Linked DNA regions of Homo sapiens: region 2 is linked to region 1. The links come from fine-mapping of genetic effects on gene expression. A gene starts in region 1. The other region holds a variant in brackets. All regions are shown on one strand. Distances are from middle to middle. Region 1 holds the start of CANT1 (calcium activated nucleotidase 1). Region 2 overlaps CANT1 (calcium activated nucleotidase 1).

Region 1 (5,373 bases):
TCACTGTCTATGGTGTGGGCGCACAGCTTCAGAACCCTCTACGGTTTGCAGTTACTGCCTTGTAAAGAGGCTGTGTCTGCTTAATTTGTATCATCGATGTTACACCTGGAGGAATTTTAGCCAAAAGGCGACCTTCTCAGTTGAAAGGCACATTCCAAATGGCACCACACATCTGGGAAGGTGTCCTTTTCCAGAGTGTGTGAAAATAACGGGATGGGATCATCGCCCCATGGACCTGGATCAGGGCTGCCTTCCACACCGCGGTGGCACCTGCACGAGCCCACCTGCTTACTGCCACCTTCTCTCCTCACGCTTTCCTCCAGGCTCGGCTCCCGGGACACAAAGGCCGAATCGCCAGGACTTTCACTCAACCCGGCAACACCCTCAGAGCCATTCTGGGGGGTCCCAGTCTCACCTCTGCCCCACTCCCACATGGTGGCATCACGCACTGTCTTAAGTCTTAAGCCAGACTTCAACGCCTTCTTCACTTCCCATAAAACCATCCCAGAGGAACGCGGGGAGCAGCGTCCTGCCTGGGAACCAGGCGCTCCACATGACCACTGCACGCATGACAAAGACGAGCAGGGTCCAAAACAAAAAACAGAACGTCTCCCCAAACAGACTTCTCTACTGCCAGGATGATTTTTTCCTAATTAACCATCTTGATTAAAGTAAAAGGAAAATCAACATGAACATTCTTAAGAATTAATATAAAAGTTTCTAATTCCCTTGATATTGGCATTTCATAAGAGCTTTCCAGGAAATCTCGATAGTTCAGAGTGCACTGAGTGAAAAGAATGAATGCTGTGTGTCCTTGGCATCCCTGGTACCATTCAACAAACAATAGAAAAATGACCTCCTTGTGATAGTACTGACCCATTTCAGGACCTGGACAATAGTTCCAAGTCTCAGATCTTCTGTTTTTGAAAGAGAAAACACTACAGCATTTATACATCTACCTATCTACCTATACGGTTGCCAGAAAGTACCGAGACTCCGAGGACGGGCCATATGTACTTGGGGGAGCCTGCACAGGCACACACACCTCGAAAGCCACATCCAGGTGGCAGGGTAAAAACACCCACAGGGCCAGGAGAACTGCTGCTACCACACCCTGGGTCTCCTCACGTACTCTGCAGCTCAGGGGGGTCCTGCAGACCAGGTGCACAGTGACGGGTGAGTGAAAACGTTCTGGAGTACCAAGAGCTTTTACACCAACACATTTACTAAGCTGCCATGGGCTAGGAAAATATGGTTATAGCCTAAGGGGAAGAAAGGAGACCTCTGGCAATCAGAAGCGTCAAGCCTCAGATGTGCCCCTCCAGCGAGGTGTCCCAGGGTCCAGGGGTCCTATCCCGCTGCGAGTGGAGGGTTCCCTCTACCACCTTGTGACATGTCATTCTCTTTTGTGATCACGTTAATTTGGACATGAAAAAGTGACACTAGAAGTTGGTCCCCACACTGCTGCGGTGGCCTCATGACAGTGCCTGGACAAATCCATGCTTCACCTGAGTCCTGGCCGTGAAGATGCCTGGGGCTGCCCCGACAGGAAACCCTTGCCACGTCCAGAGGGGAGAGGGTTGGCTCCTTCAGTGTGCCTTTCAGCAGGGGCGTGTGCTAGGATAGAGGGCTCATTGAGGCCAGCAGGGAGGAGCACCTGGGAGGAGCCCCACTGCCGTTCCACAGGCTCCAGCCAGACTGTCCTGCTGAGAGGCCTGCGGTGGGGCTGCAGGGAGGGTCTGTGGTCCAGGCCTGGAGGGACCTTTCTCAGCAAAGCTCCTCAGAGGGAGAGGGAGGAAGAGCTGGGAGATAGCGGATCCTGAAGGGCTGCGGCACCCGCTTCCTTTTAGGAGCCTTCTACGACCTGACACTTGTTTCAAGTTTGGGCCCTTACACTGGAGAGCTAGCCGGATTCACTTGACACCAAGAGCCTCACATTTCCAAACCTCTGCTTTGTTGAAAATGTGGTAGGAAAGGCCATAGGGCATACAACCTCAAGAATAAAATAAGAAATGGAGCTGGGACACTAAGAGACGGCTTTTCCAGGGGTCACTAAGGGGGAAAGGTGTTTGGGAGAGAGATGTGTCTGCTGATGGAAGAGTGGTCACAGGTGCTCTGTGCCAAGCCTAGGGTACACAGAGGGCAAGGGAAAGACCATTCGGAGGGAGAAGCAAAGGCACCAGGCAACATGGACTGGCAAGGAGGTACCAGTCTCCAAGGATGAGAGAATCCAGACCGGATGGCAGTAGGGGTGTGAGACAGGTATGGTGGGGAGGGCGAATCATTTGCATGCAGGAAGATGAGAGTGAGCTGTGTGCCTGGAGGAAGGCTCCAAATTGGATGAGGGCAGGGAGAGCAAGGACTGGGATGGGGTGGGGAAGGTTGGCCTGTTACAGGTTTGACCAAGTGCCAGTCAGAGGGAGAAAATTCCCTTATCAGTCCAAGGAGACCCTGCATAGACCAGAGGAGGGGTATTTGAAGTCAGAAGGTGGTGGGAGGGGGTCATTCCCAGGAGGGGTGCCCCACACTAGCCAGAGCGGGGAGGCGTCCCACACTAATCAGAGGGGGATGGTCCCCACACTAACCAGAGGGGGAGGTGCCCCACATGAATCAGAGGGGGGTGGTCCCCACACTAATCAGAGCGGGGAGGTGCCCCACAGTAATCAGAGGGGGATGGTCCCCAAACTAATTAGAAGGGGGGTGTCCCACACTAATCAGAGCGGGGAGGAGTCACATAATCAGAGGGGGGAGGTGCCCACACTAATCAGAGGGGAATGGTCCCCACACTAATTAGAGAGGAGGGGTGCCCACACTAACCAGAGGGTAATGGTCCCCACGCTAGTCCCAGGGATGAGGTGTCCCAAAAGTCAGAGGGGGTGGTGTCCACCGCCTGTCGGAAGAAGGGGACTTTCCCACAGGTCAGAGGGCAGAGTCCCAGCCCAGTCTGCGAGTCAGGGGGCAGAGATCCCGCACGGGTGGGACGGGAAGGGGGCCTGACGGGTCAGGGGGCGGGACGCGGCAGGGTCGGAGGGCGGCGGCAGGCTCCGGGACGGGGGTCCGGGCCCGTGGCTGGGGCAGGGCGCCGGCGGCCGCGGGCGCAGTCACTCACCCGCTGCGGGGCTGGCTCCGGTGCCCGCGATCGGCGGGGCTTGGCTGGGCTTGGCTGGGCTTGGCTGGGCTAACGGCCGGGACGGAGGAAGGTGGCCGACTTCCGCCCCGCGCGCGCTCGCCCCGCCTCTGGGCCCGCGTTCCCGGCAGCCTCTGCTCTGCGGCTGCGCGCGGACGGCGCGAGGGCTGCTGGGAGCTGTGGTTTGTGTTTTTTTGGGTTTTTTTTTTGTTGTTTTTTTGTGTTTTTTTTTTCCGTCCTGCGCCTGCGCGCTGGAGGAGCGGCCGGCTGGCTGCAGGCTGGAGGGGCGCGAGGGTCCGCACTGGCACATGAGGGCCGTCTTCCACCGCGTTGCGCTGGAACGTGGGCCCAGCAGATCTTTTGGGGTGGGAGGCATTGAGGGGGGTGAAGGCTACTAGGGAGGGAAGTTCTCATTCTCCGAGCGAGGGCCCCCTTACATGGGCCTCCCGACCCTCGTAGTCTTGGGAGGCGGAAAACCGTGGGCCCCTTTCTGCCATCCTCATTCTCAGGCAGCCCCTCTCCTTGGCCCTTCAAAACAGCCGCCTCCAGAGTGCTGCTGACCAGTTGCCAAAGCCAGGATCAGGGAGGTCTAAGGCTGTAGTGTCCTGGGGTGGGGACGGTGGGGTGTTTCCCTGCAAAAAATCTGCAGTTGACAAACCTGCCAAACAAGGGTCTCTGATTTCTCCTTTCCCCTCCGTAGCCCTAGCCCCCGAGATATTTTAGGGCACTCTGTTAAAAGGCTTCCCCGGCCCCGCCCTCCTCCATCCCAAAGTTCTGAGAAAGGCCTGGTGGCCGTGGAGCCTCTGGCAGGAGAGCTTGGCAGAAGGGTGCACCAGCCCCCTGCCCATCTGCACCTTCAGCTTTCCTGCTTGATACCAGCTACTTCCCCCAGCTCTCTCAAAACCTTCCGTTCAGTAAAAGATACACAAGAGGAGGAATTCAAATTATATAAATGGTACGCAATGAAAAATAAGCCTCCCATTGCCGTTCTGTATTCCCTGCCCAGAGGCGATCACTAGATGTTATATGGTATCCAAACAAGTCATAAACACGTATCTTAAATTACCTTTAACTAAATAGAAATGTGCTAAACACTGTTATGCACTTTTGGTTTTTGATTTTGGAGAGGAGACAAACCTTTCTTGAATTCATTAATGTTTCTTGTCATGCTAAACTGAGTCCCAACCATGTCTCACATAATACTCATTATTGTCAGGCCTCTGAGCCCAAGCTAAGCCATCATATCCCCTGTGACCTGCACATATACATCCAGATGGCCTGAAGCAACTGAAGAACCACAAAAGATGACATTCCACCATTGTGATCTGTTCCTGCCCCACCCTCACTGATCAATTGACCTTATGACAATACACCCTCCCCACCCTTAGGATAATGTACTTCGTGATATTCCCTCACCCTTAAGAAGGTACTTTGTAATATTTTTCCCACCCTTGAGAATGTACTTTGTGAGATCCACCCCCTGCCCACAAAAAATTGCTCCTAACTCCACCACCTATCCCAAACCTATAAGAACTAATGATAATCCCACTACTCTTTGCTGACTCCTTTCTCGGACTCCGCCCACTTGCACCCAGGTGAAATAAACAGTCTTGTTGCTCACACAAGGCCCGTTGGTGGAATCTCTTCACATGGACGCATGTGACAATTATATTTGAATCTTTTATTTTCTAAAAGATCCACATGTGCCTTCCAGCTTAAGAAATAACACATTATTCCTGCATCTTTAAAACTCTCCAGGTTCTTCCTGTTCTGTACTCCCTGCTACCCCCAAGAGGTGGTAGCCACAATACTGAATGTTGTGTTAATCATTCTGTTGCCTTACTTTATAATTTTAGCACATAGGTATGTATCCCTAAACAATATATTGTTTAATTCTGTCTATTTTAACCTTTATAAAATGAAATAAAACTGTATGCAATAATTGAGAGATCCAGTGGCTCTCTCAGAGGCCTTCGAACCAGAGCAACACCATCTTGAATAAGGGCTGGGTAAATGAGACCTGCTGGGCTGCATTCCCAGGAAATTAGGCATTCTTAGTCACAGGATGAGATAGGAGGTTACAAGATACGGGTCACAGAGACCCTGCTGATGAAACAGGATGCAGTAAAGAAGCTGGTCAAAACCCTCCAAATCCAGGATGGCAATGAAAGTGACCTCTGGCTGTCCTTGCTGCTAATTATACCCTAATTATAATGTATTAGCATGCTGAAAGACACTCCCACCAG
Region 2 (5,373 bases), 19 kb before region 1:
CTGTATTTTTGCAACTTCTGTGTGGTTCAAAATTTTATTTCAAAGGAAAAAATGGTGGGGAAGAAAGTGGTGAAAGCAGACACTCTTGCGTTGTTCCTCAGGGGGAAGGCATTCAGTGTCTGACCGTGAAGTAGGAGCTTAGCTGTGGACTTCTCACCGGAGCCCTTCATCGGGTTAAGGATGTTCCCTAACGGGTTTTTTGGCTTTTTGTTTAGAATTGGATTGGGTGAATGGCTGTTAGATTCTGTCAAATGCTTTTTCTCTATCTTTTGAGATTATCATGCTTTTCCCCCTTTTTAGTCTTTTTTTTTTTTTTTTTTTTTTTTGAGATGGAGTCTCGCTCTGTCGCCCAGGCTGGAGAGCAATGGGATGATGTCGGTTCACTGCAACCTCCGCCTCTCAGGTTCAAGCGATTCTCCTGCCTCAGCCTCCCAAGTAGCTGGGACTATAGGTGCGCCCCACCACCCCCAGCTAATTTTTCGTGTTTTTAGTAGAGACGGGGTTTCACCATGTTGGCCAGGCTGGTCTCGAACTCCTGACCTCAAATGCCCACCTCAGCCTCCCAAAGTGCTGGGATTACAGGCATGAGCCACCACACCCTGCCCCTTTTTAGTCTTCATATGAATTTCATTGATTGATTTCAGAATACTGAACTAACCCTGTATTCCTAGAATAAACCACACCTATCGTGAAGTATTCTTGTCAGAGACGTTTGAACCAGAGCCACTCCATCTTGAACCAGGTCTGGGTAAATTACGGCTGAGACCTGCTGGGCTGCATTCCCAGGAGGTTAAGGCATTCTTAGTCACTGGAGACAGAAGGTTGGCACAAGATACAGGTCATACCTTGCTGATAAAACAGGCTGGCCGGGCGCAGTGGCTCACACCTGTAATCCCAGCACTTTGGGAGGCCGAGGCAGGCGAATCGCGAAGTCAGGAGTTTGAGACCAGCCTGGCCAACATGGTGAAACCCCATCTCTACTAAAAATATACAAATTAGCAGGGTGTTGTGGCGCACGACTGTAATCCCAGCTACTCGGGAGGCTGAGGCAGGAGAATCGCTTGAACCTGGGAGTCGGAGGATGCAGTGCGCTGAGATTGTGCCACTGCACTCCAGCCTGGGCAACAGAATGAGACTCCATCTCAAAAACAACAACAACAACAAAACAGGCTGCAGTAAAGCCGGCTAAAACCCACCAAAATCAAGCGGCGATGAGAGTGACCTCTGGCTGTCCTCACTGCTATGCTCCTGCAAGCACCATGATAAATGCCATGGCAACATGAGGAAGTTACCCTCTATGGTCTAAAAACGGGAGGCATGAAGAATCCACCCCTTGTTTAGCATATCCTCAAGAAATAACCATAAAAAGGGACAGTCAGCAGCCCTGGAGCTACTCTGCCTTTAGAGTTGCTATTCTTTATTCCTTTACTTTTTTTTTTGAGATGGAGTCTCACTCCATCGCACAGGCTGGAGTGCAGTGGCGCGATCTCGGCTCACTGTAACCTCCATCTCCCAGGTTCAAGCGATTCTCCTGCCTCAGCCTCCTGAGTAGCTGGGATTACAGACATGCACCGCCACGCCCAGCTGATTTTTATATTTTTAGTAGAGATGGGGTTTCACCATGTGGTCAGGCTGGTCTCCAACTCCTGATCTCGTGATTTGCCTGCCTCAGCCTCCCAAAGTGTTGGGATTACAGGCGTGAGCCACCGCACCTGGCCTACTTTCTTAATAAACTTGCTGTCACTTTACTCTATGGACGTGCCCAGAATTATTTCTTGTGTGAGCTCCAAGAACCCTCTCTTGGTGACCTGAATCAGACCCCTTTCCGGTAACATTCTAATTTTTGATTATTGCTGAATTTGGCTTGCTAATCTGTGCTAAGGATTCTTTTTTTATTTTTTATTTTTATTTATTTTTTTTTTTTGAGACGGAGTCTCGCTCTGTCACCCAGGCTGGAGTGCAGTGGCGCGATCTCGACTCACTGTAAGCTCTGCCTCCTGGGTTCATGCCATTCTCCTGCCTCAGCCTCCCGAGTAGCTGGGACTACAGGTGCCCGCCACTGTGCCCGGCTAACTTTTTTGTATTTTTTAGTAGAGATGGGGTTTCACTGTGTTAGCCAGGATGCTCTCAATCTCCTGACCTCGTGATCTACCCGCCTCGGCCTCCCAAAGTGCTGGGATTACAGGCGTGAGCCACTGCTCCTGGCCAGGATTTTTACATCTATGTTCATGAGGGATACTGGTCTGTATTTTTTTTTTTTGTAATGTATTTTTCTGGTTTTGGTATCAGTATAGTGGTGCCCTCATAAAATGAGTTGGAAAAGTTTCCCAACTCCCAGAATCATGGAAGATTTTGTGTTGCTTTC[G/A]TATTATTTCTCCCTTACATGTTTGGTACAATTCAAAAGTGAAGCCATCTGGGCCAGGGGTTTTCACAGTGTGACGGTATTTTATTTTTGCTTTAACTCTTTTAACAGCATGAAGGGATAACTTACCTTGAGATTTATCAATTTAAAGTGTACCGTGGGCCGGGCGCGGTGGCTCACACCTGTAATCCCAGCACTTTGGGAGGCCGAGGCGGGCAGATCACAAGGTCAGGAGATCGAGACCAAACTGGCTAACATGGTGAAACCCCGTCTCTACTAAAAATACAAAAAATTTGCCGGGCACGGTGGCGGGAGCCTGTAGTCCCAGCTACTCGTGAGGCTGAGGCAGGAGAATGGCGTGAACCCGGGAGGCGGAGCTTGCAGTGAGCCGAGATAGTGCCACTGCAGTCTGGCCTGGGCGAAAGAGCGAGACTCCGTCTTAAAATAAAATAAAATAAAATAAATAAAATAAAATAAATAAAATAAAATAAAATAAATAAAATAAAATAAAATAATAAAATAAAATAAAATAGTGTACCATGGCTGGGTGCAGTGGCTCACGCCTGTAATCCCAACGCTTTGGGAGGTCAAGGCGGATGGATCACTTGAGATCAGGAGTTTGAGACCAGCCTGGCCAATATGGAGAAACCCCATCTCTACTAAAAACACAAAAATTAGCCGGGCGTGGTGGCGCACGCCTGTAATCCCAGCTACTTGGGAGGCTGAGGCAGAAGAATTGCTTGAACCTGGGAGATGGAGGTTACAGTGAGCCAAGATCGTGTCCCTGCACTTCAGCCTGGGAGACAGAGCAAGACTCCATCCCCCCAAAATAAAAAAAAGAAAAGAAAAAAAGTATACTGGAATACAGGATTAACACGTGGAATGAAAGAAACTGAATCTCGTTTTTTTGTCCAGTTGAGGTGACTGGAGAGTCTTCCATTTGCAGATGAGCTGTGTGCCGGACCCATGAGTGTGGAGCCGGCAGTCACTGCCCCACGAGTCCCGCATGTCACAGCTTCTTAAACAGATGGTCAAGAGCTTACATGCGGTTCCTTATCCCAACCCGCCGCGGCCCGATGCGCCCTGGCTTTTTCTGGAACTGTTGTTCTGTGGATCCTCGCCGAGAACGCCCAGTTCTCCTTGCTGCTCAGTCATGGAGTCTCTCTGGGGACCCCGCTGCCGCGCTGGTCCTTCTGCAGAGGCCGCCTCCCTGCAGCGCTGTCTTGGTCAGGCTCCCAGCAGGAAAAGACGACACCCGAATGAAGATCATCTAAGGAGGCTTCAGTGAAGGGACCATTTACCACGGATGAGACAGCAGGGCGTGCGGGCGGCACGAGGGGCCGCTGTAGCATCTGGAGCTGCTAACAGTGGAGCTGTCACTCCCATGTCACACTCCCAGGCCAGAAGAGACCAGGGGAGGGGACTCAGCCCAGACACTGGGAGTGGCACCAGGGGGCTGCCTTGAGAGGCGAGTGCCAGAGAGAGTCAGGGACTCCCCAGGGGCCATCCCAGAGGGCACTGAGGAGGTTCACTGGGTCTGGGACCCGGAGGAGGCGGGGAAGGAGAGTGGGTCTGAAGGGTAAGGGGTCGATGTGGGTGCAATTGCCCTTTCTGATTCCGCTCTCCCGGTTTTCTGTCCCTCTCTGGCCGCCCCTGTCCTGTCTCTAGTTGAGGTCTTTCTTGGCCAGTGCCTGCCTCCCTGGCGCCTGTGGTTTCAGTGATGGGGATTCTTCCATGCGTCACTTGGAGCGACCTCGTCTGTTCCTGTGGACTCACTGACACACTAAAGACACCAGCTCAGCCCTGACCTCTCACCTGAGCGCCTCCTTACCAAGTCATCCAGATGGCTCCCCAGGGATGAGCAGCAACAAAACGGGCACGTGGGTGCCCAGCACACGTCAGGTGATGTTCTAAGCCCCTTGCGCGTACCCAGTCACTTACCGTTCACTGCAGCCCCGGGATGAGCTCTGCGATGAGCATCCTTTTGCAGACGAGGACACTGAAGCACAGGAAAGTTAGGTCATTTGCCTAAGGACATGCAGCTGGATGGGGACAGAGCCAGGATCGGGCTTGCAGTGGCTTCAGACCCCACCTTTCTGACCACAGCGCTCGTGCTCTTGGAGCGCCTTGAGATAGTGGGACAAGGCGGACTGGAGGACGCAGTTTCCAGATGGGATGCCCTGGCGGGCGACTCCCGTGCGCATGCCCAGCATCCTGCGCAGGCGCTCTCGTGGCCAGGCCTCTGCAAACAGTCAGCACAGACCGGGAGACAGAAAACTACACTCCCTCAGACGCTTTATTGTTTACAAAACAGATGGATCCCATAGGGAAGGAACACAATCATTATGCTGACAGCAGCGAACAGAGAGGGGAAGAAAAAAGGTGAGCTTTAAAGTAATCGCAAATCACTGCCTATGCGAAGAGGCTGCTTCCGGGCACCTGGGCTGTGACTCAGGTGCTGACATGAATACATCAGCAAGGTCTCAATTCAGCCACAGTCCCAAGTCCCCCAACCTTCCTGATTGCATCTCTATTTTAAATGACCCAGCCTGGACATCAAGGACAATGATCTAGGAGGCGGGTCAAGGAGACAGCCAGGCAAAGTCAGAACAGACTTGGGGCTTCCAGGCTATGCCCGGTGACAGCTGAGCTCTTCAGAAATGCGTCACATTCAGCGTTCACTTCCTTCGCTTCCTCCACTACCTATGACATAGCGGGGGAAAGAGACAACCATGAGAGAGGGGTCCCTCCTCGCTGCCCTCCTCGCAGCTGTGCTTGAGTTTCAAAGGGGGAGAGGTTTGTGAGGGACCGGCACAGGGACAGCCAGAGCCGGCACCCTCCGGCCCACCGTGGCACCCCTGACGATCGCGGGGTGGGGTAGGAGTGAGGGTGGGGGTCGGGGTGAGGTAGTGCTGTGGGGAGGGCACTGTGAATGATGGAAACGTCCCTTCTCAGCCTGGGTCGTGCCTAACCTGGGTCTCAAATCCCACTCTGCCTTCACCCTGGAGTAC

What was found. PIP is the estimated chance that this variant, and not a neighbour inherited with it, causes the effect.
Region 2: its variant is fine-mapped to the expression of CANT1 in T cells (TOPMed, PIP 0.93).

The regions. Positions count from the first base shown.
Region 1 is chr17:79,006,555-79,011,927 of GRCh38, forward strand. It overlaps CANT1 (calcium activated nucleotidase 1), which reads right to left and starts at 3,210. Exons shown (of 5, transcript NM_001159773.2): 1 at 3,110-3,210. RefSeq lists a silencer at 2,930-3,309 and an enhancer at 3,550-3,599.
Region 2 is chr17:78,987,076-78,992,448 of GRCh38, forward strand. CANT1 (calcium activated nucleotidase 1) reads right to left here. Exons shown (of 5, transcript NM_001159773.2): 5 at 4,641-5,373. Among named protein-coding and RNA genes, the nearest start is that of LGALS3BP, 9.8 kb to the left of the region's middle. The variant G/A (reference allele first, on the strand shown) is at 2,366.